4 linked regions of the Homo sapiens genome follow. The protein of the gene in region 1 interacts with the protein of each later gene in a pairwise test. Each region holds a gene or a part of one and is shown in the gene's direction. Other genes may lie near its edges. The genes, in order: TRIO, LIMS1, BLMH and ITSN2.

Region 1 (3,927 bases):
GCTGACAAAGCAAAGAGATACAAGTATGTGTACGACCCTTTATCTACAAATCTCTGTACAGACCCATTATATACATTATGAATATATAATATAGATGTAGACCCCAAACATGAGTCCATAACGATGTCTCCAACTCTAACCCTGTACCACAAGGATCACTCTAGCCTCTTCCTGGCTGTAACCTCCACTCCAGCAGTGAAGATTTGATGGCCACCATCCACCATTTACATTTGTCTATTTCCAGTATACTCGTGTGGTGGTTTCATCACCCAGTTGTTTTTCATCTCTCTTGCTTCTGCCTGTTTCCCCCGGCACTGGATCCTTTCACTCTCCTCGTAGCCGGGGCATAGGCGTTTTGAACTAGAATATTCGTCCAGCGCTGGTTTGACACGGATCTTCCGCAAAGGAACATTTCTTTTGGCCTCCCCAGACCCCGTCATCTTCCCCATTCATTCTGGCGGAGTAAGGACTGAGAAACCGTGAACCCGAGGTTCAGCAGCCGAAAGTCCCCTGGGAGATGGGGATACACCGAGAGGAATCCCATTTTACAGGAGAGCTTTGTACCCTTAGGAGTACCGTGGCCTCCGGGACTGGAGCAGATAACCTGTTTTCGGGCCCTCTATGTTCACTCAACAACTATTAAGAAGCCCCCTCCCCGAGCCAGGGCCAGCGCTGAGCCCACTAGGGAGGCACCCGCCCCGGCCCGCGTCACCCCGCCTTGCGGGCTAGACGACGAAACGCCTCGGCGCTCAGGGGACCGCGCACCGGTGCAGGAGCCAGCGCCCCGGTTGGGGGCGCAATGCCGGGCCTGGGAAGGTCCGCCCCGGCTGGTCAGAGCTTTCCTGCGCCTTCCAAGGCTTGGAGCTGCCCCGGGGAAGCAGACCGAACCAAACCGAACGTTCCTGCAGCCTCCCCGCCAGCCCTGCGGGAGCCCATCCGCCCAACGCGGCCCCGCCCCTCCCCCAGGCTCCGCCCACCGCCGAGCCCAGGCTCGGCCCTTGACGAAGTTCGCCGGAAATTACCGAAGCCCCTCTTTTTTTTCCTTCCTCTCCGTTCCCTGTTCTCCCTTTTCCTTTCACCCGGGTTCCCTCGGCCGTGATTTCCCCCTCCCCCCTCCTTCCTTCCCCATTGAAATCAAGATGGAGGCTCGCGGCAGCCGCCGGCGCCCGTGATCCCGGAGGTCTCGCCGGCCACGGGCCCCCGCCCTCGCGACTGCGCGTCCGGGAGGCGCGTGCTGCTGCCCGCGCTCCGGCCGGCGCCCGGGAGGCCGTGGCTCCGCGCCTCCGCCCCTCGGCCAGCTCGCGGCTACCGGGCGGAGTCCTCGTCTATGTGGGCGCGCTCCTTGGGCCGAGCCGCCGCCGCCGCCCCCCGCCGCCCCGGGGCTCTGCGTCCGCGCGCCGGGCGCGGGCAGCTGGGTGCTCGGCGCCGCCAGGCCCGGCGCGGAGCGGGCGGCACGCGGCGCTAGGGGCGCGGGGCCCGAGGCGGGCGCGGCCGCGGGCGCCGCCGCAGCCATGAGCGGCAGCAGCGGCGGAGCCGCCGCCCCCGCCGCGTCCTCCGGCCCCGCCGCGGCGGCCAGCGCGGCTGGCTCGGGCTGCGGGGGCGGTGCCGGCGAGGGGGCAGAGGAGGCGGCCAAGGACCTGGCCGACATCGCGGCCTTCTTCCGATCCGGTGAGTGCAACTGCGGCCGGCCCGCCCAGCGGCGCTGCCCCAAGCGCTCGGCCGACCCGCCGCGGAGCTGCCGAGCTCCGGCCACCGCGCGCTGGTGCCCGCCCGTCCGTCCGTCGGGGCCCGCAGGCTCTCGCCTGGGACCACTGCTTCCATGCGCCGGGGCTGCCCGCCCCACATCCGCGTGTCCCGCTGCCCGCGCAGCCGGGCGCGCGGCAGCTTGGCCCGAATGCCACCACCTCGCCCTCCCTGCGCCCGCCCCTCGTTTTAGGGCAGAATCCCCCGGTCTGCCGCTCCCGGCAGCCGCGGCTTCGCGGGTTGGGGCGCCGGCTCTTTGTCTCTTTCGCTGGAGGACCGAGGAGGCGGCGGCGGAGATGGCGTGGGCGGAGGCTCTTACCCCGGAGGCCGAGCGGACTGAGCCGGGGCCGGTCCGGGACGGGAAATTGGTCTTTGATCTGTGCCTGTCTCTGGCTGATTTGTACCTGGACCCTCCTCGACCCCATTAGCAGCCGGGTTTCTTTGCTTGGCCCTCTAGCCTGTCATCTCCCCGGCCTTGGTCTACACTTCTGTGAAACGGGGCAGTCACGGCACTCACTGCCCAGGGAGTGGGGACGGTGGCCGAGCTGAAGCTCGGAGGACCGGGAGGCGCGGTGAGCCATTGTCTCCGGGGACGACCCGGGAGGGTCAGCTGGGAACGTGGCCCCGGGGGGGCGGCGCGGGGCTGGGGCTCGCGGGGCACTGTGTGGGTGGCGTGGAGGTGGAGGCGGTGCCAGGTGGCCCCGAGTCCACCCCGGCGCAGAGGGGGTGGCCGCGGGAGAGGCGCGGGTGGCGACCGGTCCGCGGGAGGGGCACCGGGTTTGCTGCGCAGGGGGCGTGACAGGGCGTCCCCGGTACCCCAGCGGCGGCGCCTCCTCCCGCTCCGGCCCAGATCCCGCGCGAGCCGGGCCCGCGTCCCCGCGTCCCGCGTCCCCGCGCCCAGTCCGGTCTGCTCGCGCGTCGGCTGAGCAGCAGCAGGAGGAGGAGGAGGCGGCGGCGGCGGCGGCGGCCTCGGGGCCGGCACCCAGAGCGCAGTCCTTAGCGGGCCGGGCACGGGGCAGGGAGGATGCAGACTCCGGGTTGGAGAGCGGAGGAGGGCGGGCCAGGTCCGGGCCTGGAGAGGCGGGCGGGGGTGCTGGTGGCGGCCTCGGGGAGGACGGCCGGGCTGGGGACACCGACAGGCCGGGGGAGCGGCCCTGCGCTGGGGGACGCGCGGGAGGTCGGCGGTTCACGCTTTTCCGTGGCCTCTTTGAAAATCACCTCCCCAGATTCGGTGAGATCAGTTCCCCAATCCGGGTCACGAGGAGCAATTGCAGCGGGAGGGCGATGGTGAGAGGCAGAAGTTAGCAGTGCTGGTAGATACCTGGTTTAGTACTGTCTTCTCTTGGTTGTCTTGATCTTTGCTAGGCGGGGTTATTTTTGATTCATTTTAGCAGATTGGTTGTGGCTGGGAGTGACACAGCCGACTGTCCAGTGTTAGCTTGGGGTTAATCTACTCCCCAGTGCTCACTCTCCTTGAGAAGTGCCTGCAGAAAGCAAAGGTTTAGGAAAACATGAGCTCCTTCTAAAGAAAGCTACCCCCCCCCACCTTTTTTTTTTTGGTGCGACTGGCCAGATAGAGCAGCCCCGTCTTACCTCTTAATAGCAGAACTGGGACGTATTCCCTTCATGCCCTGAAGCTAAGTCTAGCTTTCTCTCTACCTACCTGTCACAGAATAATAGATTCTGTGCAGAATTCAGCTCCTCTCTGTTAGAAAGGCTCTTCTGCGTTGGAGATGGATTTTTTGGTGTTTGTGAGACCAGGCTTTTTTACATCTCTATTATGCATAGTACAAAAATCACTTCTGCTGCTGCTAAGAGCCCTCCCTAAAAGACACCGAAGATTTGCTGCCTGTTGGCGTGGCTCTCTCCAGGAGTTGTCGTCTGCTCTTGGCTTTGCTTAGGCCTGTGCTGCCCCCGCCGCCAGGGCTCCTGTTCATGTTCCGTTTGGGTCAGAACCAGGTAATGTCTCACTGGCTTGTTCCTTTCTTCTGCCCTCCAAAATGACAAACTTAACTTTTTAGTTGTTTCACTTAGAATCAGGAGCCAGGGCAGAACTTAAGTAGGTATCAGATGCAGCATCCCATTCCAGCGATAGCCTGGAACGTCTTTTTAAAAGTGAAATCTCCTTTGGGCAGCTCTGAGTCCCTGACCTAGATCTTGGCTCTAGCATCTAGGCCAACGATG
Region 2 (8,041 bases), on another chromosome or scaffold:
TGGTGAAACCCCATCTCTACTAAGAATAAAAAAATTAGCCAGGCGTGGTGGTGGGTGCCTGTAGTCCCAGCTACTCGGGAGGCTGAGGCAGGAGAATGGCATGAACCTGGGAGGTGGAGCTTGCAGTGAGTGTGGATCGCGCCACTGCACTCCAGCCTGGGCAGCAAAGCAAGACTCGTCTCAAAAAAAAAAAAAAAAAAAGAGAAAGAAAGAAAACAGTTTGGTTGTATAAGTTCAGCCATCTCATCTTTTGTGATTGAATTATCAGTTTGTGCCTTATCTCGTTTTCTTGCCTGTCCTTCCTCTTGGGGATTCACCTCTGTCCACTTTTCATTAGCATCTCTCCTAGAGAATTACATAAAAGGGATGAAATTCAAACAAGTCCGTTTGACTAATTGGGACCATCTCTGACCAAATGTTTATTGATGCAGGAGACTGAAAATAATATTTAATTTGAGTATTTGGAGAAGGAAAATTCTGGGCATTTTGTTGTTTATGAAAATAAACCTATTAACCTATAACTATTTTCAACAGCTTGTGACAATTTAAATAATTGTTAGTAAATGGAACTAGTCTCCCAACTTCTCAGTTTGCTTGGAAAGGTCGTGTGTTAGTCTATTTTATGCGCCTGTAACAGAATACCACAAACTGGGTAATTTGTAACCAACAGAAGTTTATTTGGCTCATGGTTCTGGAGGCTGGGAAGTCCAAGATCAAGGGGCTGGCATCTGGTGAGGACCTTCTTCTGCATCATTACATAGCAGAGGGCATCACATGGTGGGGGAAGAGGAGGGGGGAAGGAAGAGAAGGAAGGAGGCTGAACTCGTCCTTTTATAAGGAACCCACCCCCTCAGTAACAGCGTTAATCCATCTGTGAGGGCAGAGCCTTCATGATGTAATCACCCCTTAGAGGTCCTACCTCTCAACACCTCAGAATTGGGGATCATGAACTTTGGGGACACAGTCACACCATAGCAGATAGTATTACTGAGTCTACCCTCAGCACTGTGATTATTCCCTGTAGCTTTTAGAGGAAGACAAATGGACTAAAATGTAATGTGATAATATAAGAAGGAAATTATGAATATGACTGGTGTGGTGGTATGTATCTGACCTAGTCTTGCATCTTATCCTTTTAAGATACAGATGTTTTGGTAGGAGTCTGAAACCTGTTCAGGCCTATTAATTCAGGTTATTCTGATCACCTCTAAAGGGGAAAAAAGAAATTTGCAGGGATTGTCATAGTAATGTCTTTAAAAACCTTCTAAAAAGTGTGCTAGCCCCATTGGTTGGCCACTTTTCTCTCTTAGTATTAAGCTGTGTGTCTTTCTCACGGACAGGAAGGAGCTGACTGCCGATGCACGGGAGCTGAAAGGGGAGCTATACTGCCTCCCATGCCATGATAAAATGGGGGTCCCCATCTGTGGTGCTTGCCGACGGCCCATCGAAGGGCGCGTGGTGAACGCTATGGGCAAGCAGTGGCATGTGGAGGTGAGTTCTAAATGGCAAAGGGTAACCAATCCTTTCAAATCTCCATGATTAAGGGGTAACCAATACTTTCAGATCTCCCATGATTCAGGGGTAACCAGTACTTTCAAATCTTCATGATTCAGGTGTCCTGGCAAGATTAGGAGACTCTAAAGATTAAACGTGGACATTTTAAAGACAATTGACTTTGCTGACAGCTAAGAATATATAATGTACACTGCTTTTGTGAATGTCTCAGTAATGATACAGGATGTGTACTTTTGCTCCTAAAGCCTTCTTGAAGCAGGAAGTGCCATGGTCTGTATCCAGCAGCAGCTCCTCCTTTATAGGTGCTACTGAGATGCTCACCTCTATTCTCTTTTTGGGCTATTATAATAGGCTATGTCTTAAAGTAACCTTCAAAGACAGACACCTGAATTACAACTGCAGAAGTATTATATTATGGGGCCACCTATGGCCAAATGAAATGACTGTCTCAAACTTTCCTTCATCTTCTCTGAAAATAGGTTAACTCTGGTATTTACTTTATTAGATATAAAATATGGCAATTCAAAAATGACCTATAGCAATTTTTTTTCAGCATTTTGTTTGTGCCAAGTGTGAGAAACCCTTTCTTGGACATCGCCATTATGAGAGGAAAGGCCTGGCATATTGTGAAACTCACTATAACCAGGTATTGACCTTAGTCACTGGATGCTAGATAGACTTTTATGAACCTAAGCTTATCAGTAGTTTAGCTACAAGGAAATCTCTTGGAAGATGTACATTGTTCAGTAGAGATTTGTTTTTAACTTTTTATTTGGGAAATAATTTCAGACTCAGAAGCTAACTATAAAATATACAAAGAATACCTGTATGTCTTTCATTCAAGTCCACAGTTTGCTTTATCATTTCCCAAGCTCAGTCTTCCTGTGTAAAACACATAGTTACGTAAATATTATATACAAGTACGATGGCTGTTTTGCCAATAAGTTCATCATACTCCTTTATCCCTAAATACTTCAGTGTATATTTCCCAAGAATATGGGACTCTCTAACATAATTGTAGTTATCAATATTGATACCGTACTCTAACCATTTATTCCAGTTTTGTCACTTGAGTCAATATCCTCACAGCATTTTTTCCACTCCCAGACTGGACCCAGCCTCTGGCTGTGATGTTTCTTTAGCCTTCTTAAATCTGGAACGTTTCCAGAGTCTTTTAAAATTTTTGATGACATTGACATTTTGGAGGGATGCAGAGGGCCCCTAACCCCTTTTTAATAGACTACTTTCCACTTGGGTTCACCTGGTGCTTCTCTGTGCTTAGATGAGGTTATACACAGCAGGTTGTGGCCTCATACAGTGGCAGGGCATCTTCTCAGAACCTTGCCCCTGGAGCATTTTATACCTCTCCTGCCCTGGTGATCTCCCAGGCATGGTGCTGGCTGATAACATCACTGTGAATTACAATTTCCTTCCCTCCTCTGTAAGAAAGAAGCAATCTGTGGGCAATCATTTTATGACCATGGAAATGTCCTGTTCCTCATCAACCTGCCCTAGATTCAGCACCCCTTGATGATTCTTGTCTCTGCGCCAGCTGCAAACGACACTTCTCCAGCCCCATGCCCTCCACCCATAGTCTGGTCCTCAGCGCTCTGCCTGAGCAAGAACCCACCTCCTCTCCCGTCTATAGGTTTATTCATTTATCTATTTCTTATCCATATGGACTCACAGATTTCTATATTTTGCATCACTTATTTGGGTGTTCAAACTGTCATCTGGAAAGTTTTTCTTTTAATTGATGAGAGTGAATTACTTTCATTGTAAGAAGTAAAAACTTGTCAAAGAACTTTTACTAAATTTCTCTAGTAGTGATAAATCCTCAATTTAGATAGCCAGCTATTTTTAAATGTTCAGTGTTCTAAAAATTCTAACACATCTTGAACTTTGACCACCTTTTTTTATTTTCAGCTATTTGGTGATGTTTGCTTCCACTGCAATCGTGTTATAGAAGGTGATGGTAAGTATCTGTGTGAGTTTTAGATTGGTGCCACTTTGACACAAAAACACTTGGGTAATGTGGAAATTCAGGTTGGTGATTGTATGGTTTGAAATGTGATCGTTATCAGTTACTTTTTCTCTATCTTTGGCGTATTTTCCAAGTAATCTGTAGCAGTAAGATGATAATATCAAAGAGTTGGATTTGTTACTGATTTATGACACTACTTTCGGCCACTGCTGCAGTGTTGTATGCCAGCAATCATGGGAACTGTCCCTGGTGGACCCTAAGACCTGTTTGTGTCCAGTTTCAGGAAGCTCTAGAACAACGTTTATTAGGAACAGTTTAATCTGCTATCGTAGTTAGGAAGAGGCACTTTAACCTGCACATGCTAAAAGCTGGCAGTTATCAGCAAGCATATCTAGGACTTACCACCCTTGTACTGTGGTAATTAGGCTGGGCTGATTGATTGGAACAGAAAGGAAGCAGCTGTGTTTGCTAAGACTCGCTAACACACTTCTGCCAGAGACTTCCTGGCAAAGTTTTGAACAATCCTGTTTTCAGCATGATTCATGGCTCCCTGCAGACATCACCTAATTCAGGAAATACTTTTGAAACACTGTTCATGTGCAGTTTGTGAAAACAATCCAGGAAAACAATCTTTAGTGCCATTGAAAATAAAACTTACCTCCCTCCTCTGTGAAATAGATGCCAGGTGAAAGAAGCTGCAAAGGAAACTGTCTTCTTATCATCAGCTCTGGAAAAAAGACTCCTACAGGGGCAAATAAGTTAATGTCTGGATTTTTGAAAATTATTTACCTAGTTCATATTTCCATGTTGGGCCAACAGCAGTAGGGACAGAAACAGCAAGCTCACCTAAACAACATGGTGCATGGACAGTTGCCACATGTGCCCAGGCCAAGGGGGCACAGTTGCTGGTGTAAGACATGGCACACATCATTTATAACTTCACAGGATACTTAAGGATGGGGGAAGATTAAAGTCAGCCCTCCGTATCCAGGGGCTGGATCCAAACATCCGTGGATTCAACCAACTATGGATCAAAAATATTTAGAGAAAAATAACAATATAACAGTACAAATAGTACAGTATAATGACTATTTACATATCATTTACATTGTACTAGGCATTATAATTAACCTAGAGATGATCTAAAGTATACGAGATAGGACCAGGCTCAGTGGCTCACGCCTGTGATCCCAACACTTTGGGAGGCCAAGGCGGGCAGATCAACTGAGGTCAAGAGTTCAAGAGCAGTCTGGCCAACATGGTGAAACCCCATCTCTACTAAAAATACAAAAACTTAGCTGGGTGTGGTGGTGCATGCCTATGATCCCAGCTACTCGGGAGGCTGAGACAGGAGAATCACCTGAACCCGGGAGGCAGAGGTTGCTGTGAGCCAAGATCACACCATTGCACTCCAGCCTGGGCAACAAGAGCAAAAACTTCGTCTCAAAAAAAATAAATAAATGTATACAAGACAATGTACATAGGTTATATGCATTTTATATCAGGGACTTGAGCGTCTGAGATTTTGGTATCCTCACAGCATCCTAGAAACAGTATCCTGCACATACTGAGCAACAACTGTATACATAAAGGTTGAGGGCCGGGTGTGGTGGCTTATACCTGTAATCCCAGCACTTAAGGAGGCCGAGACAGGAGAATTTCTTGAGGCCAGGAGTTCGATACCAGCCTGGGCAACAGAGCAAGACCTCCATCTCTACAAAATAAAAAATTAGCCAGGTGTGGTAGCACACACCTATGGTCCCAGCTACACAGGAGAACGAGAGGAGAAGATTGCTTGAGCCCAGGAGTTCGAGCTGTGATCGCACCACTGCAATACAGCCTGGACAACAGAGCGAGACCCTGTCTGAAAAACAAAAGAAAAGAAGCTCTCAGGAAAGAGGTTCTTGGCTGGGCATGGTGGCTCATGCCTATAATCTCAGCATTTTGGGAGACCGAGGCAGGTAGATTGCTTGAGCCCAGGAGTTCAAGACCGTCCTGGGAAACATGGCAAGACCGTGTCTCTATAAAAAATACAAAAATTAGACAGGTATAGGCCGGGCGCAGTGGCTCACGCTTGTAATCCCAGCACTCTGGGAGGCCAAGACGGGCGGATCACAAGGTCAAGAGATTGAGACCATCTTGGCCAACATGGTGAAATCCCGTCTCTATTAAATACAAAAATTAGCTGGGCATGGTGGCACGCACCTGTAGTCCCAGCTACTTGGGAAAATGAGGCAGGAGAATCGCTTGAACCCAGGAGGCGGAGGTTGCAGTGAGCCGTGATTGCGCCACTGCACTCCAGCCTGGCAACAGAGCGAGATTCCGTCTCAAAAAAAAAAAAAAAAAAAAAATTAGCCAGGTGTAGTGGCATGCACCTGTAGTCCCAGCTACTCAGGAGGCTGAGGTGGGAGGATCACTTGAGCCTGGGAGGTTGGGGTTACAGTGAGCCAAGATTGTGCCACTGTACTCCAGCCTGGGCTATAGAGCAAGACCCTGTCTCATTTAAAAAAAAAAAAAAAAAAAAAAAAGGTTCTTGAGAACCTCCACCAAGTGCCACAGACACAGTCGTAGTTCTGTTTTGGAGTTGAAATTCTAAGCTGCCCTGCTCCCCATACTGATGTATTTCCATGTGACCAGATCTCTTTCCTCTTTCTCCAGTGGTCTCTGCTCTTAATAAGGCCTGGTGCGTGAACTGCTTTGCCTGTTCTACCTGCAACACTAAATTAACACTCAAGTAAGTGTACGGTTTTGTCCAGTGTGAATCCTAAGACTGAAAACTTTGGGGAGACACTTAAAAAAAATCCTAGAATTTAGAAAAAGAGAATTATTTGATTTCTTATTTCCTCTTTCTGTTCAGGCCTTCTGAAAGTAAAGGTTCTTCCTTTAACTGTTCCCTGTTCTTTCTTCTATTCCTTCTTTGTCCTACTCAAAGGGATAAGTTTGTTGAAATTGACCTAAAGCCAGTCTGCAAACACTGTTATGAGAAAATGCCAGAAGAATTTAAGAGGCGACTTGCCAAACGGGAGAGAGAAGCAAAGGATAAGGACAAGCAGAAAAAGAAAAAGCCAGTCTGTTTGTAAACTTTTCTATCCCTGTGTCATCATTTTCACTGCTTTCTCCTTTGGTTAGTCCTTTGGAATATGTTTTTGTTCTGTTTCTGTCTTTTGCTTTCTTCCCCCCCTGCAACTTTTGGGCATGTATTTGTAGTCATCAGAGATTGAAATACAAGTATTTGTCCTATGTAGAACTGGTCCTTTTGCATAACTGCTAAAATTACAAAAATTAAATGAATACACTCCATACTTAATACAGTTTTGTGGTCATGTATTTCACTTACTCTGTAGACTCACTCACCTCATTTTTTAAACACCATATAGTATACATTTCTTTCTTTTTTTTTTAATGGATTTAAAGGGAAGAATTCTAATCTCTTAATAGACCCTGGAAAACATTTTAAAGGATTTTTGTCTGATTAACTGTAGCTTTTAAAATCCTGGTTTTTGGTTTCCTTGCCACGATCATTTAATTGATAAATTATAAGTGTTGTTTGATATTTTTAAAAATGCATATATTCTAAGTTATGTATTAAATTATTTCAGCATGGCGAGGCATGGTGGCTCACGCCTGTAATCCCAGCACTTTAGGAAGGCAGAGTGGAAGGATTGCCTGAGCCCAGGATTTTGAGACCAGCCTGGACTACATGCCTAGACCCCATCCGTCAAAAAAAAAAAACAAATTAGCCAGGCGTGGTGGCCCATACCTATAGTCCCAGCTACTCAGGAGGCTGAGGCTGCTGCAGTGAGCCATGACTGCCACTGCACTCCAGCTTGGGCGACAGAGTGAGACTCTGTCTCAAAAAAAAAAAAAAATCTTTCAGCATGTTTCGTATCTAAGCAAAGTCCATCTGATTTACGTAAGACATCTTCTTCTGTGATGTTCGAATGTGCATTCATACAATACCCATATGCTACTGTTTATGAATTCATTTCCTCAATGTCTTCAAACTCTTTTTTTATTCCTGATTTTTATGAGAAGTATTTCAATCTTTGAAATTCTTTTGAATTACCAGCATGATTGTTCCAGTTTTCCCTCATAGTTACCATTGTGTTTGGAGCTCTAAAAATATTTTGTTCCAGTTTACATGTTTCCTTCTATAAAGAGGAATTAAATGTAAATGTAAGATTAAAACAATGAGGCCGGGCATGGTGGCTCACGCCTGTGATCCCAGCACTTTGAGATGCCAAGGCAGCAGATCACTTGAGATCAGCCTGGGCAACATGGTGAAGCCCCGTCTCTACTAAAAATACAAAAAAATTAGCCAGGCATGGTGGCGGGTGCCTGTAATCCCAGATACTCGCGAGGCTGAGACAGGAGAATCGCTTGAACCTGAGAGGCGGAGGTTGCAGTGAGCCGAGATCGTGCCACTGCATTCCACCCTGGGCGACAGAGTGAGACTCTGTCTCAAAAAATAAAAAATAAAAAAGATTAAAACTGGAAAGCTTGCTAAGGTAGTCTGTCTGAAAACAGGAATAATTTTTTTCT
Region 3 (8,041 bases), on another chromosome or scaffold:
AGGGACTATATATAATCCACATTGTTTTAGGTTAGTTTAAATTCTCTATTTAATTAGCTAAAGATATAAAATCTTAATCAGAAGACAAATGGCCCCAAGAGGCAAGTACAGATGCACTCAGTGTAGCTTCCCTTGACATACAACTGCCCCCAGGGGACAAGCAAAGGGTCTCCATCAATCAAAAAATTTAGCTCAATTTTGGGCAGGCTGCCCTTTATACTCTGGGACTCATATCACAATTTTAGGGGACCTTTCTCAGTAATCTATATTTAAGGGAATAATTAGAATCATTGGCTTCTTCTGTTCTTTTTAAACCAGATTTAGAATTAATAGGATCACATCATTATTCGTTTGAGGAGTTGAGGAAAAGCAGAATCAGTTGCCAGGTGTCATTGAGCCGTGTATATCTTTGCCTTCAGCTTTCCAGCATTTTGGAAAGCCCATATTCCAAGTCCACCCCCTTTATCAGATTGGTTCTAAATTTGGTTTGAAATGACAAAAGTGCTTGGGGCTAGATGTGGGGCTGGGTGTGGCGGCTTACGCCTATAATCCCAGCACTCTGGGAGGCAGGCAGATCACTTGAGGCCCGGAGTTCAAGACCAGCCTGGCCAACATGGCAAAACCCTGTCTCTACCGAAAATACAAAAAATTAGCCAGGCATGGTGGTGCATGCCTGTAATCACTGCTACTTGGGAGGCTGAGGCATGAGAAATGCTTGAACCTGGGAGGCAGAGGTTGCAGCGAGCCGAGATCGTGCCACCGCATTCCAGCCTGGGTGACAGAGTGAGGCTCTGTCCCCCGCTCCCCCCCACAAAAAAAGTCACGTGTTCGTTAAATATTTCTTAACATATGTATCTGACACTATTCTAGGCATTGGAGATTAAACAGTGAACAACACAGAAAAGAATACCTATCTTTGTGTAGTTGATGTTCTAGTAGGGAAAGACAAAGTGTATAAGAAGTATAATATGCCAGAAGATAAGTGCAATGGAGAAAAGTAAAGGAAAAAAGATGTGAAGTACTGGGATGGGAAGTGAGCAATTTCAATTAAAGTCACAAATACATTTCCCTAAATGGGCTAATTGTTGGTTTTAATATTAATTTAATGTGTAATTATATTCTGAGGGATATGGTTGTACTCTTATTTTACTCAATTCTGTATAATCTCTTGTGTTCACTGTTCAGTATCTTTTTGTCCTGGATGCCAAGTAGATCTTGTGAGAAGCAGGTGACACTCCAGTGTTGCCCACCAGAGAGCAGAGTTGGATATCTAAAGCTCACTGCCCAGGGAATGTTATTTCAGAACTGCAGAGTCTCTTATCAAGAAAATATAGTATCAGAGACCATGGAAATTATTCTTTGGAGCATTTTTTTTTAATGAGAGCTTATTTAATTAACTATTGTTATTTGGCTCAGAGTCAGATATTCCTTCCAAAGTGTTACAGACTGACTTAAATATTAATGACTTTGGATAATTTATAGTCATGGTAAACAAATAGTATAAAACAATGCAACATGTCTCAAGTTACAAAGTTTTACTAGAATCTAAAAGAAATATCACCCTTATCCTTATTTATGCCTTAATTATATTTTTATTAAAATTCAGATTTATAAAATATATGTGAAGGGCATAAGCATTGTTTTATAAAAGGACTCACTATAGAATTCATTTAGATAGCAGAAATGCATATTTCCTCTAATGTATTTGGGAGAAGGAGGAATTTAACACTTTTTACTTTAAACAGGGAGTCAAGTACATAATAAGGTATTTTGCAAATTATAGTGTAAAACATTTGTATTTATCTTTAGAATATGTTTAAAAGTAACCAGAAATTCACTTAGTTATCTTCATCTTAGTTGGGCCTGGCATTGCCTCTCCTTTTTTGGCCAGGGCCTGGCTGAGCTGAATTTACCACCGTTGGATAACTGAGAATTGATTGAAATGGTTCCACTACTACATGTAGATACACATGTAACAGTAGTTACTAGTTGAAAATACACATCATTTAGGTCTTTAAAACCTTTCTAATCTAAGTATGTTCTGACTGTACACCTTCATTGTCATTGACTTGACCATAGTTACCAGTGGCAATGTCTTCTTCATAATGACAGATGCCTAAAGTTGTCATTTGTAGCCTTGGCACTGAGTAAATACAAAATGAATGTGAATCCCAAACAGAGCTCATTAATCCTTGGCTAGAGTAACTCAATTACGGTTGCTTATGTGATACTCTGCCTCCTTTCTGTGGTAGAAACCAACTTGGGAAGGATATAACGTTAAAAGAGAGATGGTTTAATGACTAGATGTTCAGGCTCGTAACACACACAGTAAATCTTAATAAAGGAAGGTTCTCTCTTGGAAAACAGAACAAAACAAAATGACAGGCAAGCATAACTTCTTCTCTAAGTTAACTTGCTTCTGTTAAGATAGAATCACAGCAGTGAACAAATTGCTCATATACACAGCAATGTGTGTGAATCTCACAGACATTATGTCAGCCAAAGGAAGCCAGACACAAAAGATAATGTGTTCTATGAATACTTTTATACGAAGTTAAAGGACAGGCAAAACTAATCAATGGTTATAAAGTAAAAACAGTGGTTATCTGGTGGAAGTTGTGGGTTACTTAACAGCAAAGGAGCCAGAGAACCTCCAGAGCCTGGAAATGTTATGTATATTGATATGAATGATGGTTACATGGGTATATATGTATGTTTTTAAAAAACGAATTGTTAGTGTGTTTTACACACTAAACATATGTTTTGCCTAAGTTAAAAAGTAAGAAAAAGGAATTAGGTCACGGAGTTTGGATTTGTTATGGGAGGTAATAGGGAAACATTGGATCTTCAACAGGGACGTGAGTTGAGAAAAGTAGTGCTTTTCAAATTCTCCTGTGGTGATATGGAGAATGGAACAATGTTCAGATCAACTGGTGTATCTGTGTCATGTCGCCAGCACTGCTAGATGCTATAAAGGACACAAAATATCCATGATCTGGTTCTTATCTTTAAGAAGTGTATAATCTTTTATGGGAGACAAGTTATATGAAATCTAGAAAGTTACAGTAAATGGTAAATAGATGGAGTTTTGGAAACAACATATTAAAGTCAGCCCTAAGTTCAAATCCTAATTCTGCCATTTACTGGCTCTATGACTTCAGGAAAGTGATTTATTTCCCTGAACCTTGATATCCTTATCTGTAAAAGGGGGATAATATCCACCATCTTTGTTGAGAGGCTTAAGAAATATGGTAGTGAAAGATAGTACAGCAAAGTAGACGGTCAGTACATCTTCCCTTTTTAAATCCTGTAGCCAAGGAGCAATATTTTGTTGTTGTTGTTGTTTTTGACAGCATGTGACCTCAGTTTAGATTGTGGTTTTCCACTTGCTGGCTGTGTGACCTTAAGTAAATTACTTGGTTTCTTTGTGTCTCAATCTCTGATTTAAAAAAAAAAGGTGAAGGGGAAGTGGAGGGAAATATACCTTGAGAGGGTATTATGAGAATTACGTGGACCTAGCAAATACATAGTATCTAGCACAATATAGGCACACTTGGTAAATATAAAATCTGTTTCTGTTGAATGTGATAGCGGATAGAAATGTGTAGTATAAATAATGCAGGTAATAGATGATTGGATCAGGGTGGTGACTGTGGGTGCAAAAGGGACAGGCAGATCATAGTGTTATGTTTTTAAAAAGACAAGGACATTTGATATAGAAGATAAAATACTTTCTTTATTCTGTCCTTGTGCAGGGTGTATCTCTTTTTCTATTTTTGCATTGCTTTCTTTTTTTTTTTGAGATGGAGTCTCGCCCTGTCCCCCAGGCCAGAGTGCAATGGCATGATCTCGGCTCACTGCAACCTCTGCCTCCTGGGTTCAAGGGATTCTCCTGCCTCAGCCTCCCGAGTAGCTGGGATTATAGGTACATACCACCATGCCCAGCTAGTTTTTTTGTTTTGTTTTGTTTTGTTTTCTTTTGTATCTTTAGTAAAGACAGGGTTTCACCATGTTGGCCAGGCTGGTCTCAAACTCCTGACCTCATGATCCACCTGCCTCAGCCTCCCAAAGTGCTGGGATTACAGGCGTGAGCCACTGTGCCCAGCCTTGTTTTTGCATTTCTATAAAATGAAAATAATATAAAGTATATCCTTGGATCGTAATGATGTTAACTTGAAGGTGTTGTGACATCATTAGAAAATATGTTGTCTCACAACCCAAAAAATTATACCTTATTACTAAAAGTCACTCCTCTTCTTTTTATTTTTGAGACAGGGTCCTCACTCTGTCACTCAGGCTGGAGTGCAGTGGTGTGATCTCAACTCACTGCAACCTCTGCCTCCTGGGCTCAAGTGGTCACCCCACCTCAGCCTCCTGAGTAGCTGTGACCACAGGCACAGGCCACCACGCCTGGCTAGTTTTTGTACTTTTTTTTTTTTTTTTTTTAAACCATGACTCAGCCCTCAGGAGATCCTGAGAACATGTGCCCCTAATTTTTGTATTTTTTGAGATAGGGTCTTGCTCTGTCACCCAGGCTGGAGTGTAGTGGCACGATCATGGCTCACTGAAGCTTCTGCCTCCTGGGCTCAAGCGATCCTCCCTCCTCAGCCTCTTGAGCACCTGGGACTACAGGCATGAGCCACCACGTCCAGCTAATTTTTTTCTTTTTTAAGATGAGGTTTCACTATGTTATCCAGGCTGGTCTTGAACTCCTGGGTTCAAGGGATCCTCCAACCTCAGCTTCCCAAAGTACTGGGATTACAGGCATGAACCACTGCACCTGGCCCTCCTCTTCTAGTAATACTTTTAACAGGCATTGTCATCCAACTCCAGCTGAAAAATTAGTTACTTTCCTATGACTAGAGACCCCTGTTGTAATAAGGAAAACATCAATGTATAAAGGGAAGGAAATCCATTTATAAAATTTGTCATTTTTTGGTTACTTGAAAAATAATCAGAGCAGCAACTCAGATCTTGCTGGGTATCAATGGTAGACAGATTCTTGGCTAAGGAAGTTTAAATTTTCAGGACAAGTACTAAGCACTAAATGTTAACATTTCAGAATCGCATTGTTCACAGTGTTTATTTGAGAACTCATAAGTTGACTGATAACAAATCTCAGACATCGGCTTTCCAGTTTTTGACGCAGTATTAGATTTCTTGTGAAATTTTTAGCTTGAATTTAGCCACTAACTTCTTGTGTTTCCTAAGCTTAAGGAAAATGAAGAGGTGAAAAAAATAACATTTCCCCCTAACCATTGCTCGCCTTTCCTCCTCCTCTCTTCCAGATATTCCGAGTGGTGTGCATCTGTTTGGGTAATCCACCAGAGACATTCACCTGGGAATATCGAGACAAAGATAAAAATTATCAGAAAATTGGCCCCATAACACCCTTGGAGTTTTACAGGGAACATGTCAAGCCACTCTTCAATATGGAAGATAAGGTTGGTGAATGGCACTGGTAGTCACTGGCTGTTTACTTTCAAATGGCTGTTAACCACAGGGAATTGTATAAGATTCTTGGTTAGCATGTATGAGTATCAAACTAGACAGCAAACAAACATTTTTCCCCACTTCCTCTGAAGTATTTTATGCAGCTAATGAAGTTGGTGGTGCCAGGATTTATCAGCTTTTCCACAATGTTCCTCTTCAGAGACTTTTTAAACTGTAAGCCAGCAGTCATTTTAATTCCCACATGCGCCCCTGTATAGGACCAGAATCATTCTCAAGTGCAAAACAATGAAAGTGTGTTGGGTATTTCTTATCGTGGATTCAGAGCACTTTTGCACTGAGGTCCCCTCGGGGAACTCTCCTGTTGAAGGGAGTAATCTTAGTTTTTCCTGTTCCCTTTAGGTCTTCCTCATCTGCCTAGTAGGAGGATCAGAGCCTCTTCCTTTTATTGGCTTCTTGATCCTCTTCCAAGCAGATGCCTGTCTTGTAACTTGAGAACAGGGGCCTTGTGATTAGCTCTCCAATTTTTCTTACTCAGTGCATGTTATTTTTCAGAATGAGTTTTGAGGGCCGGGTGCGGTGGCTCATGCCTGTAATCCCAGCACACTGGGAGGCTGTGGTGAGTGGATCACCTGAGTTCGGGAGTTCGAGACCAGCCTGGCCAACATGGTGAAACTCCGTCTCTACTAAAAATACAAAAATTAGCCAGGCATGGTGGCGCACATCTGTAATCCCAGCTACTTGGGAGGCTGAAGCAGGAGAATCACTTGAACCTGGGAGGCGGAGGTTGCAGTGAGCCGAGATGGCGCCATTGCACTCCAGCCTGGGCGACAGAGTGAGATTCTGTCTCAAAAAAAAAAAAAAAAAAATTGCTTTTGGAGCAGTTCTTGCTAGTAGGAAAAACAGGTAGATGCACCTCCTAATTGTGTCTCTTACGCGAATTAGAATAAGCAAGGACCTCTCTCACATGTATTTTGCCACCTTGTGTTTCTTTGTTACTTAACAATGTGGCTGTAGTACTTAGCTTGTAGGCAGAGATGATGAGCTTGATGGAAACATGAACCTAGAGGAGAGCTGTGTGTTGCTTGACATTCCTGGTTTTGTGCCCTAATTAATGTGTTCTTGATCTTGATAGATTTGTTTAGTGAATGACCCTAGGCCCCAGCACAAGTACAACAAACTTTACACAGTGGAATACTTAAGCAATATGGTTGGAGGGAGAAAAACTCTATACAACAACCAGCCCATTGACTTCCTGAAAAAGATGGTTGCTGCCTCCATCAAAGATGGAGAGGTTGGTATTGTTTCTGTATTTTGCACATTGGGGTTAAAACATCTTTTACTTCTTTGGTATAATAGGAAGATGGGGTTTATGTTGACTTTCTTCCTCTTTCTTCTGTTTCTAGGCTGTGTGGTTTGGCTGTGATGTTGGAAAACACTTCAATAGCAAGCTGGGCCTCAGTGACATGAATCTGTGAGTGCAGGAAATTTAAAATGGAAAGTCATTTGTGGGTTGTTGCTGTTGGAGTGTGCTGTTGGTACAAAATGACTCTGCCGAGGTTCATCCAAAGATGAAGGTTGACCTAAGGGCGCGTCTCTTTCTTTGCATCCTTTAGAGTTTGAGGACTCATAGCAGAAACTCCACATACTTAAACACTCTAACCCAGGACATCAAAATCCCACTTTCTATCTGAGTGGAAATCGTTGGGCGTTCCTAAAAAGCCATCCTCTATGAGAAAGACACTTTAAAAAAATAATTGACTATTGCGGAAATGTGTTCAGTGCATTTGGGAGTGTAATGAAAGATTTTCCAGAGCCCCCGTTTGCTATGTTACTTTGGTAACTTTGTATTTTGTCATTGTGACAAGTGGGACTAATTTGCATGCATACTTTATAGCATTCCTCCTGGTCATTTATGACAATGAAGGTTAATTTGTAAACTAAATCATATAGGATTCCTTGACTGTTCACCATTCTCTATTTTAGGGTTACTTATAAATAGTTGTTACTTGTAGGAAGTTGAGTAAATATCTTGATAGAGAAATCTGCTAAAAAAAAGAATTAATGAGGTTTAAAAAATTTTTGAAAACAGGTACATGCAACTCCCAAGTGTGTCTCTCACACTAACTAGAACATGCAAGGACCTCTCTCACATGTATTTTGCCTTTTGTTTCTTTGTATTTAACAATGTGAGTGTAGTGCTTATGCAAAAATATTCCCCAATATTTTGGACATTATTTATTTAAATTTTAATCAGCAGTGATTTAAATGAATTCAGAAACTGGTTGGTTCCACCAGCTCAAAAGAGATCAGTTTTCTAAGAAGTTACTTCAAACGCTTTTTTCATTATTTTTTAAAGTTTTCTTGCCTAAATGACAATGTAAACTTGTCAGCTTCTGATGTGGAGAATTTATGTTTAATCATCTCCTTTTTTTCCTGCATACTCTTGTGACACATAGAGAATGGACTCCCACTGAGAGACTAAGTTCTGCATGTTCCATATTCTTTCTGAAGAGCTACAGCTAGAGCCTTATTTATTTGGAGCTGTTGAGCCCCTTCAGTTTCTTCTGAATTCCTTTTACAACCAAAA
Region 4 (8,041 bases), on another chromosome or scaffold:
GGGTTGGAGCGATTCTCTGGCCTCCATCTCCCAAGTAGCTGGGACTACAGGCATCTGCTACGATGCCCAGCTAATTTTCGTATTTTTAGTAGAGCTGGGGTTTCACCATGTTGGCCAGGCTGGTCTTGAACTCCTGGCGTCAAGTGATCCTCCCGCCTCTGTCTCCCAACAGTGCTGGGATTGCAGGCATGAAGGGCATTCCTTCTTGGATTGTCATCTTCCTTTCTCCTAAGGAGAGAACACTGGGATTTTTTGTTTTGAGTTCTTTGAATTCAGCTGGTAGAATCAGTGTTCTGTGGCTAGAAGTAATGATTTTCACTGGGCCAGTTTGGACTCTGAAGAGTAATGTATTTAAGGATCTTTCATGCAAAGTGAATGATTCTAGCCACATTCCCACCTAGAAAACTCCACCACAGTATCCTCAGGCCCAGGGCACTGGCCTCTCAGGGGCACTGGATGGTTTGTGCCGGGATTTAAAAAGTGAAATTTTCTTTCTCTTTAAGCAACTTATTTTCAACTCTCTCACCAACTGCCTGGGGCCCCGGAAGCTCTTACACAGTGGGAAATTATACAAGACCAAGAGCAACAAGGAACTGCACGGATTCCTCTTCAATGACTTCCTGCTTCTTACCTACATGGTCAAGCAGTTTGCTGTTTCCTCTGGCTCTGAGAAACTTTTCAGCTCGAAGTCCAATGCTCAATTCAAAATGTATAAAACGGTGAGTATCACGCGTCTGGGGGTAGCATCAGGGGCCTAATGAGGTGTTGCCTCTATCTTAAGGCCTTCCTGGCAGACCCTGAGCTGGCCTTACGGGACCCTCCTCACCTGGTTCCAGATCGCTCGTGCTTCCTTTGCTGCTTCCCACGGGAAGGGCCCCATGCAGCTGGGCACTCCCCACCTGCCACAGGCCATCAGCCAGATTCCAGCTGAGATTCTGGCTTCCTCCTGGCCAGCGTGACACCTGGGCTCACCACTGTGTGCATTCAGCATTGGGTCTCTGTAAGCCGAGCCCCAGCACAGCACCAGCGTTGCTAGCAGAGAGCCTTTTGCACCAGCCGTCATGGGCGCTTGGAGCTCCTGTCCCCACCCAGTCCCAACACCTGACCCACCTCGATAATGACTTTTCCAGAAATGGAGGCTTCATTGTTCTTACAAATGGAGGTTTCATTTGTTCTGTGTAGAAGACCTTAGACGCTAGACCCCTTTCTCCTTCTCAACAAGGCTCTTCAGAACAAACAGAACTCTCTCTGGACATAGGCGGGTGGAGTGTTCTAGCCCATCTCACAGCCTGTGTTTTGGCCCTAATTCTTTCAGCCCATTTTCCTGAATGAAGTCTTGGTGAAACTGCCCACAGACCCTTCCAGCGATGAGCCTGTCTTCCACATTTCCCACATTGATCGGGTCTACACCCTCCGAACAGACAACATTAATGAGAGGTCAGTCCTGACCATGTGTGGCCTGCCTTGAACTCTGGGAGAAGGCCTGGACGTCTCCCTCTGCCATAAACCCATCTCCAGCCGTGCTTAAGCCCCACTAATTCTGTATCCTGAACCTCTCTTAACACATCCCCTCTGCTCCAGTCCCATGGTAGGCCTTGGTCACTGCAGCTGCCTCCTAACATGCTTCCCGGCTTCTAGTCTCTCCCCACACCACTCAGCAGCCTTCCCAAATGGCAGATCAGCACCTGAGGCCCTGCTACAGTCCCTGCAGGGGCTGCCCGCAGGCGACAGCCCACTGTGCTTTGCTGGTTTCCGAGGCCTCCTTGGGCCACAGGCCTCAGCCCTCGTCCCTCCACCTGCAGACTTTCGCCCCTCAGGCGCCCTTGTGTGGGTGCCATCCCCGCTGTTCCCAGCTTCCTTCAGGCTGCAGCTCCAACAGTGCCTCCGCGGCGCCAACCCGGGGGGTGCTGCTGCTCCTCTGTGTGCGCTAGAACCCCTCGTGACAGGTATCATCCGTGGGGCCAATGCATCATCTGTCTCCAGGTCCCAGCGCCTTGCGAGTGCCTGGCATTTTGTGGTCAGCCAAGAAGGGTCACTACCAGCTCTCATACTCCATTAGCATAAGCATCTTTCAGTTGACTAATATCAGGTCTTTGATAGGAAACTTGTGAAAGTTGAGGTTAGCAAAAGACTGAAGAACATGTGCAGAGCTCTGGGGCTCCACGCTGACCTGTGAGGGTGGGATGCGGCCAACGGCTGCCCCTGCTTCTCCCGTAGGACCGCCTGGGTGCAGAAGATCAAGGCGGCGTCTGAGCAGTACATCGACACCGAGAAGAAGAAGCGTGAGAAAGCTTACCAAGGTATCAGGGTGCCCGGAGGGTGGGACGCAGCCCCCAGGGGCCCTAGGAATGCCGGCCACTGCTCCTGCAGTCAGGCTGATGATATAGGGACGGGTCTGAAAGACCAGACCTGCTGCGGGATCAGACCAGAGAGCCCTCCCCTCTTGAAGCTACTACTGCAAACCTCCCTGGGGCTCCTGCCCACACAGACACGGGCTGGCAGTGCCAGCTCCGGGACCTCCCTCTCTGCACCACCTCTATCCCCCCCACTCCACTGCACCTTCTCCACTCCTTTCTCTCCATGACTCACCTCACCTCTGCTTGGGCTGTGGTGCTCCATTACATGCCACACCTGTGGTCTGTCTCCCTTCAGCTCCTGAGCAGCCACTGCTCCTCCTCACCCTCCTCTAGGGCCTGCCATCCACCCTCTCCCTTTGCAGCCAGGGGGCCTAGACCCTAAGTCTGCCCTCTCCCCATCCTTCTGCCCCTGCCTCCTCCCCCTTCTCACTTCACCAGACTTCAGTCCACGTCCTGTCCCCACCAGTGACACCAGTGGCCTAGTTAGTGGCTCAGCTCACTTTCCCTGCCCCAGCTCCCTGCACTGATGGCAGTCACTGAGGCGCTGCCTTCCCTCTGGACCCCATGGCCGCCTTCCCAGTTCTTCTTCCACCCTTGCCCAGGCCTCTCCCCGACCTCTGTAGCGCTCTCCCTCGGGGACCCCACCGACCCCCAGCTTCAGGGTCAGGCTAGCCACACTCTCCCAAGCCCGCGCCTCTGAACAGCACCCTCCAGAGAACCACCTGCCCCGCTGCTCCCACATCACACATCGGCTTTTCCCAAGGGACCACCAGCCTCCTTCCAGCAGCAGCTCCTCCTGGGACCCTCTGTGGACAGTAGTGTGGTCCCTGGCCACCCAGGCCCCTCCCTGGCACCTCACACCTGGTCAGCTGCACTGCAGTCCTCCTCCCTCGCCACTTTCCCATCGCCCTTTCCTGTCCCCGTATCACAGGCCCCCGATCTCCCACCCAGGCTGCAGCACAAGGCTCTCTTTCCTCTCTGCCACCCATCCTCTTCATTTCTGGAGTATTCTTTTTTCCAGAGCTGCTCTTATACCTCTTCCTGCTGAAGTATCTTCCCTATTGCCTCCCAAATTAACGACACATTTCTTACCCCACACTCAGGGCCCATCCCCACTACTACCTGCCACCCAGCCCCATCCCTAGCTCTTTCCTGTGCCCGGCCCATCCAGCTGCCTAGTTGAGCAGCCCATTGTTGCCCTGCCTGGCCTTCCCATGTGAGCTCCCCCTCCAGCTCAAGTGCTCTGCCCTCACCTTAAATTCTTCCCATCCTTCAAGGCCCACGTCAAACACAGCCTCCTCCATGACACCCTCTTGCCCTAACCAGTGTGACTTCTACCTGGACCCCCCGCTGTCCTGAGGCTGCGATCATCCTCCGGGCGCTCATCCTCTGTTGCCTCTGCTTGCGCCCTCTCAGTCCCTGCTTTTCTCACTTAATGGCCATAAGCTCCCTCAAGGCAACTCCCTCCCACATCGGGGCCAGCATGTGACTTATGCCAGTGGGGCTCCAGATTTGTTGCACCGGTGATGTCCTCTGTGTTCATGGCACAGATCACTCACCTGCTCAGTGGAGCCGCAATGGTCTTTGTAAAGCACCCCCCACCCCACCCTGCCCCACCGTGGCCTTCAGACCAGAGCTCCCACATTCTTCTCCAGCCTCCACATGAATGCCAGGCCCCAACCTCCCTGCTGCATCTCCAGCTGTGCCAGGCCAGCCTGTGGCCTCCACCCCACAGGGGGCCTGTGCTCTGAGCCAGCTGCATCTCCACCTTCCTCCCCGCCGGCCCCCTGCATCTCCACCTTCCTTCCCGCCGGGCCCCCCCATGCAGCCTGCCCTCCTGCCTGGGCCTCCCACCAGCTTCCTGGCTGCTATAGTTGCAGCTCTTTATGTGTTTTTTTATTCAGGTTTCCCCCATTTTGTTATATACTCCTAAAAGGTATGTTTAAAACAGCTTTTGCTAATTTAGTGTTATTTTAATGGTACTTTAAAAGCTTGCTGTTGAAAAATCAATGATTGATCATTTCATAACGCATATGATCTCTTAATTGGCCAAAGATGTCAATCCGGTTTTTCTGCCTGAGTTTTGCTTCCCATCAGCATCTGCATATGTTGCTGTGCATCGTCCGTGCGTTCAGTCCTTCCCACATTTGTCAATTACTTTGTGCCAGGCTCTGTGCTAGGCTTAACTGAGCCTGGACTTTGGTATCTGATGTTTAAATGTTGACCCTGCCATTTAGCAGCTCTGAGTGGATCACACTCCAGTCCTTTCTAAGCCTCAGTGTTTCTCATCAGTAAAATGGGGAGCTACATTATCAGGTAATTATGCAGTTTAAATAATATAATTTACATAAGTCTAGCACATGCCTAACACAAAGTAAGTATCCAGTAAATGTTAGCTGCTATTAAGTGCTGCACAAATACCATGTATTATTTTATTAATATTACTATTTGCTAGGCAATTGAGGGGTTAATATAAGGATGATCGAAACAGTCCATGCTCTACCCTGGCTCCTGTCTGGCAGAGGAGACAGACATTACACACGATTTCAGACCCAGCAGGCTGTGGGCTGCTCATAAGCGAGGGATACTGGATGCAGAGGAGGGAAGGGATCTGGGAGGTAGATGTGGGATCAGACCTGCATCTTGAAGGATGAGTAGGATGCTGACGGGCAGAGAAAGCAGGCAGGGCAGAAAGAGCAAGCAGGGGCTTCCTAGCAGGCAACACAGCCTGGGGAAAGGCACAGGGCAGCCAGATGCTGGGCTGTTGGGCCCAGGGCAGTGGCAGATGGGGACAGGGAGCCGGTAGTGTTATGGTTGGTTTGAAAGACAGGGTCTGCATCCTTGGAGAAGAGATTAATGAGACTTGTCTTCCTCTTTTGTAGCCCGCTCCCAAAAGACTTCAGGCATTGGGCGCCTGATGGTGCATGTCATTGAAGCTACAGAATTAAAAGCCTGCAAACCAAATGGTAAATACTGCCTTGATTCATTCAGCAGACATAACTGCCCTGCCCCAGTTTTTGCTGATGACTTTTTGAGACAGAGTCTCAGTGTATAACCTAGGCTGGAGTGCAGTGGCACGATCTTGGCTCACTGCAACCTCTGCCTCTGGGGTACAAGTGATTCTCAAGGCTTAGCCTCCTGAGTAGCTGGGATTACAGGTGTGCACCACCACGCCTGGCAAATTCTTGTATTTTTAGTAGACACAGGGTTTCACCATGTTGGCCAGGCTGGTCTCGAACTCCTGACCTCAAGTGATCTGCCCGCCTCGGCCTCCCAAAGTGCTGGGATTACAGCACTTTGTCACTGACAAAGTGCCACTGCGCCCAGCCACTGATGACTCTTCTGAACACTGAATAAAGGAATGCTTTCTAACAGTGTGTCCAGTGCCACTAAAATGCGCATATTGGACCAATATTCTTATCACTGTTTTCCCAGTAAGTGCCAGTGCCCGCCTTCCCGAGTGTGTCTGCGCCGAGGAAGCATGCAGCAGGTTGCAGTGACACTCACCCAGGATTGTTCCGTGCGGAGTGGTCCTGGCGGTGGAGCTCTCGGCCACTCCCCAGTTAATGCTGCTGTCAGCACTGGGAACTTGGAGACCCTGTTACTAGACCACAGGGATATGGTGCCCCAGGCAGCGGCTCCTGCTGCCATGGTCTCGAGTGACCCATTATTGGAATCCTGCTTCTGCTCAGGGAGGGCACTGTCAGTCGCTTCGTTTTACCTGCATGCACCACATGTGTCTGTGGTTTGTTTTTGTTCAGGAAAGAGCAACCCATACTGTGAAATCAGCATGGGCTCCCAGAGCTACACCACCAGGACCATCCAGGACACACTCAATCCCAAGTGGAATTTTAACTGCCAGTTCTTTATTAAGGATCTCTACCAAGACGTGCTGTGTCTCACCCTGTTTGACAGAGACCAGTTTTCACCAGATGGTAAGTGTCGCTCAGCCAGGGGATCTAAAGGCTTTCCCAGTTTCCTAGATCCTGGAGTCCAGATCTAGGGGCTTCAGCTGTGTGCAGACCCCATGCCACTTCAGGGAAGTGACACAGGCCTGTGTCATCTCGCTTTGGCAGCAGGTGGGTGGCCTTCCTCAGGGGAGGAGGTGGCCTGAGATGTGTTTCAGGTCTTTGACCCATCACTCCCTACACACACGACGTGAACACCACTCCTGGAGCATTCTCAGAATGGAGATTTGAATTCCATGTGGCAGCTTCTCACACACAAACCTGCCATCATTCCCCACACACCCACTCACGACATTCAACAGCCATGAGCCAAAAGAAGTTCCTTGTTTCAGATTTGAAGGTTTTATGAATCCACTTCTTCCGGATGTAGCTCTTTAATGATTTTATAAAGAAGAAAGACTTCTGACTCTCCTGTGTTTATTCACCAGATTTCCTGGGTCGTACTGAAATTCCAGTGGCAAAAATTCGAACAGAACAGGAAAGCAAAGGCCCTATGACCCGCCGACTGCTGCTGCATGAGGTCCCCACCGGGGAGGTCTGGGTCCGTTTTGACCTGCAGCTTTTTGAGCAAAAAACTCTCCTGTAGGGGTTCTAAAGGACAGCACCAGCGGGACAGCCCACAAGGCTGGGGCTGGAGAATGAGAGACTGCGCTCTCTTGGGGCTGAGGGAGCACCATGCAGCTTCACCCCTCACAAAGCCATGCACGCTGGGGGCTCTGTTTTCCTGCACACTAAATAGCTAGCAATCTATGCAAACACCTTTCCCATAAAGAAACCAAACCCCATAGTACAGTGCCTTGTCCTAGTGTTCACATGTTCAGCTCTGTTTGTTTAGATGCCAAGGTTTCCATTTTCAGGGCTATAAAAAGTATTACTTGGAAATGAGGCATCAGACCACCAGATGTTACCGCTCGGTTGAATGTGTCCACCGTGGAGTGGTTTGGTGACGCTGTAACCATTCCACGCCAGTGACCTCTGCTGGGTCACAGCCACTCAGGAGGGGAAGGGTCAGGATGAGAGGCTGCAGCCTCGACACTTGGCGCGGCCTGATACTGAAATAGCGTCTACTCGTGCACTGAATAAAAACAGAAACTTGATCATTTTATTCCTGATTAGATTTTATCACTCTCTGCTAAGACAATATAGTCTGGAGTATAAGTGGGAAAGCTTGATTTAAATACTGTGAACTCTAATAATGTGGAAAATATTTTTCAACTTTAATTTTCTGAAGTATAAATTATTTATGTAAATTCATTGTTTTTGCATATTTCTTAGGACATGCATCTTTAAGCTTTATCATTGCCCATATGTACAGAAAGAGAATAAAGACATATGTTTATGGATGGAACTTCGTCAAAGTCTGACTGATTTACTTTCTATATGAAAGCTGCTTTTTTTCTTTTTAATTTTCTCAGCCAGATGAAAGGCTCTTAAAAGGTACCTTCACAAGTTGCCTATAATGAAACCAAGTTTCCTTCCTGGTACGTGGGAAAACCAAGGACAGAGTGAGGATGAGGTCAGGAGACCCAGGGCCTCATCTTGACTCTGCCACTAATTTGCTCTGTGACTTTGGTGAATCTACCTCGTGTTTCTGGGGCTGGGTTTCTTTAATGGGTGAAATGGATGATCTCTGTGGGAGCTACTGACCCTCCTTCAGCTTGCCTCATCGAGTGATAACCTGAGGGTAACTTACAGCAAAGAAATGCACACAGGTCT

What was found.
Region 2: the proteins of TRIO (region 1) and LIMS1 interact in a two-hybrid assay, tested with the Homo sapiens proteins (one large-scale study listed by BioGRID and IntAct).
Region 3: the proteins of TRIO (region 1) and BLMH interact in a two-hybrid assay, tested with the Homo sapiens proteins (one large-scale study listed by BioGRID and IntAct).
Region 4: the proteins of TRIO (region 1) and ITSN2 interact in a two-hybrid assay, tested with the Homo sapiens proteins (one large-scale study listed by BioGRID).

What each region holds. Positions count from the first base shown.
Region 1 is NC_000005.10:14,142,215-14,146,141, forward strand, and holds the start of TRIO (triple functional domain protein), read left to right. Parts: upstream 1-1,127; 5' UTR 1,128-1,511; coding exon 1,512-1,668; exon of another isoform or gene 1,669-2,315; intron 2,316-2,591; exon of another isoform or gene 2,592-2,767; coding exon of another isoform or gene 2,768-2,807; intron 2,808-3,927. UniProt on the Homo sapiens protein: Guanine nucleotide exchange factor (GEF) for RHOA and RAC1 GTPases. Involved in coordinating actin remodeling, which is necessary for cell migration and growth. Plays a key role in the regulation of neurite outgrowth and lamellipodia formation.
Region 2 is NC_000002.12:108,674,538-108,682,578, forward strand, and holds part of LIMS1 (LIM and senescent cell antigen-like-containing domain protein 1), read left to right. Parts: intron 1-1,340; coding exon 1,341-1,491; intron 1,492-2,068; coding exon 2,069-2,161; intron 2,162-2,257; exon of another isoform or gene 2,258-2,393; intron 2,394-2,776; exon of another isoform or gene 2,777-2,954; intron 2,955-3,441; coding exon 3,442-3,490; intron 3,491-3,901; exon of another isoform or gene 3,902-4,064; intron 4,065-6,157; coding exon 6,158-6,233; intron 6,234-6,431; coding exon of another isoform or gene 6,432-6,579; exon of another isoform or gene 6,580-6,623; intron 6,624-8,041. UniProt on the Homo sapiens protein: Within the IPP (ILK-PINCH-PARVIN) complex, binds to F-actin, promoting F-actin bundling, a process required to generate force for actin cytoskeleton reorganization and subsequent dynamic cell adhesion events such as cell spreading and migration.
Region 3 is NC_000017.11:30,271,445-30,279,485, reverse strand, and holds part of BLMH (bleomycin hydrolase), read left to right. Parts: intron 1-5,288; coding exon 5,289-5,444; intron 5,445-6,586; coding exon 6,587-6,745; intron 6,746-6,857; coding exon 6,858-6,925; intron 6,926-8,041. UniProt on the Homo sapiens protein: The normal physiological role of BLM hydrolase is unknown, but it catalyzes the inactivation of the antitumor drug BLM (a glycopeptide) by hydrolyzing the carboxamide bond of its B-aminoalaninamide moiety thus protecting normal and malignant cells from BLM toxicity.
Region 4 is NC_000002.12:24,202,496-24,210,536, reverse strand, and holds the end of ITSN2 (intersectin-2), read left to right. Parts: intron 1-503; coding exon 504-719; intron 720-1,315; coding exon 1,316-1,437; intron 1,438-2,217; coding exon 2,218-2,300; intron 2,301-4,261; coding exon of another isoform or gene 4,262-4,290; exon of another isoform or gene 4,291-4,293; intron 4,294-5,239; coding exon 5,240-5,323; intron 5,324-6,118; coding exon 6,119-6,292; intron 6,293-6,753; coding exon 6,754-6,911; 3' UTR 6,912-7,673; downstream 7,674-8,041.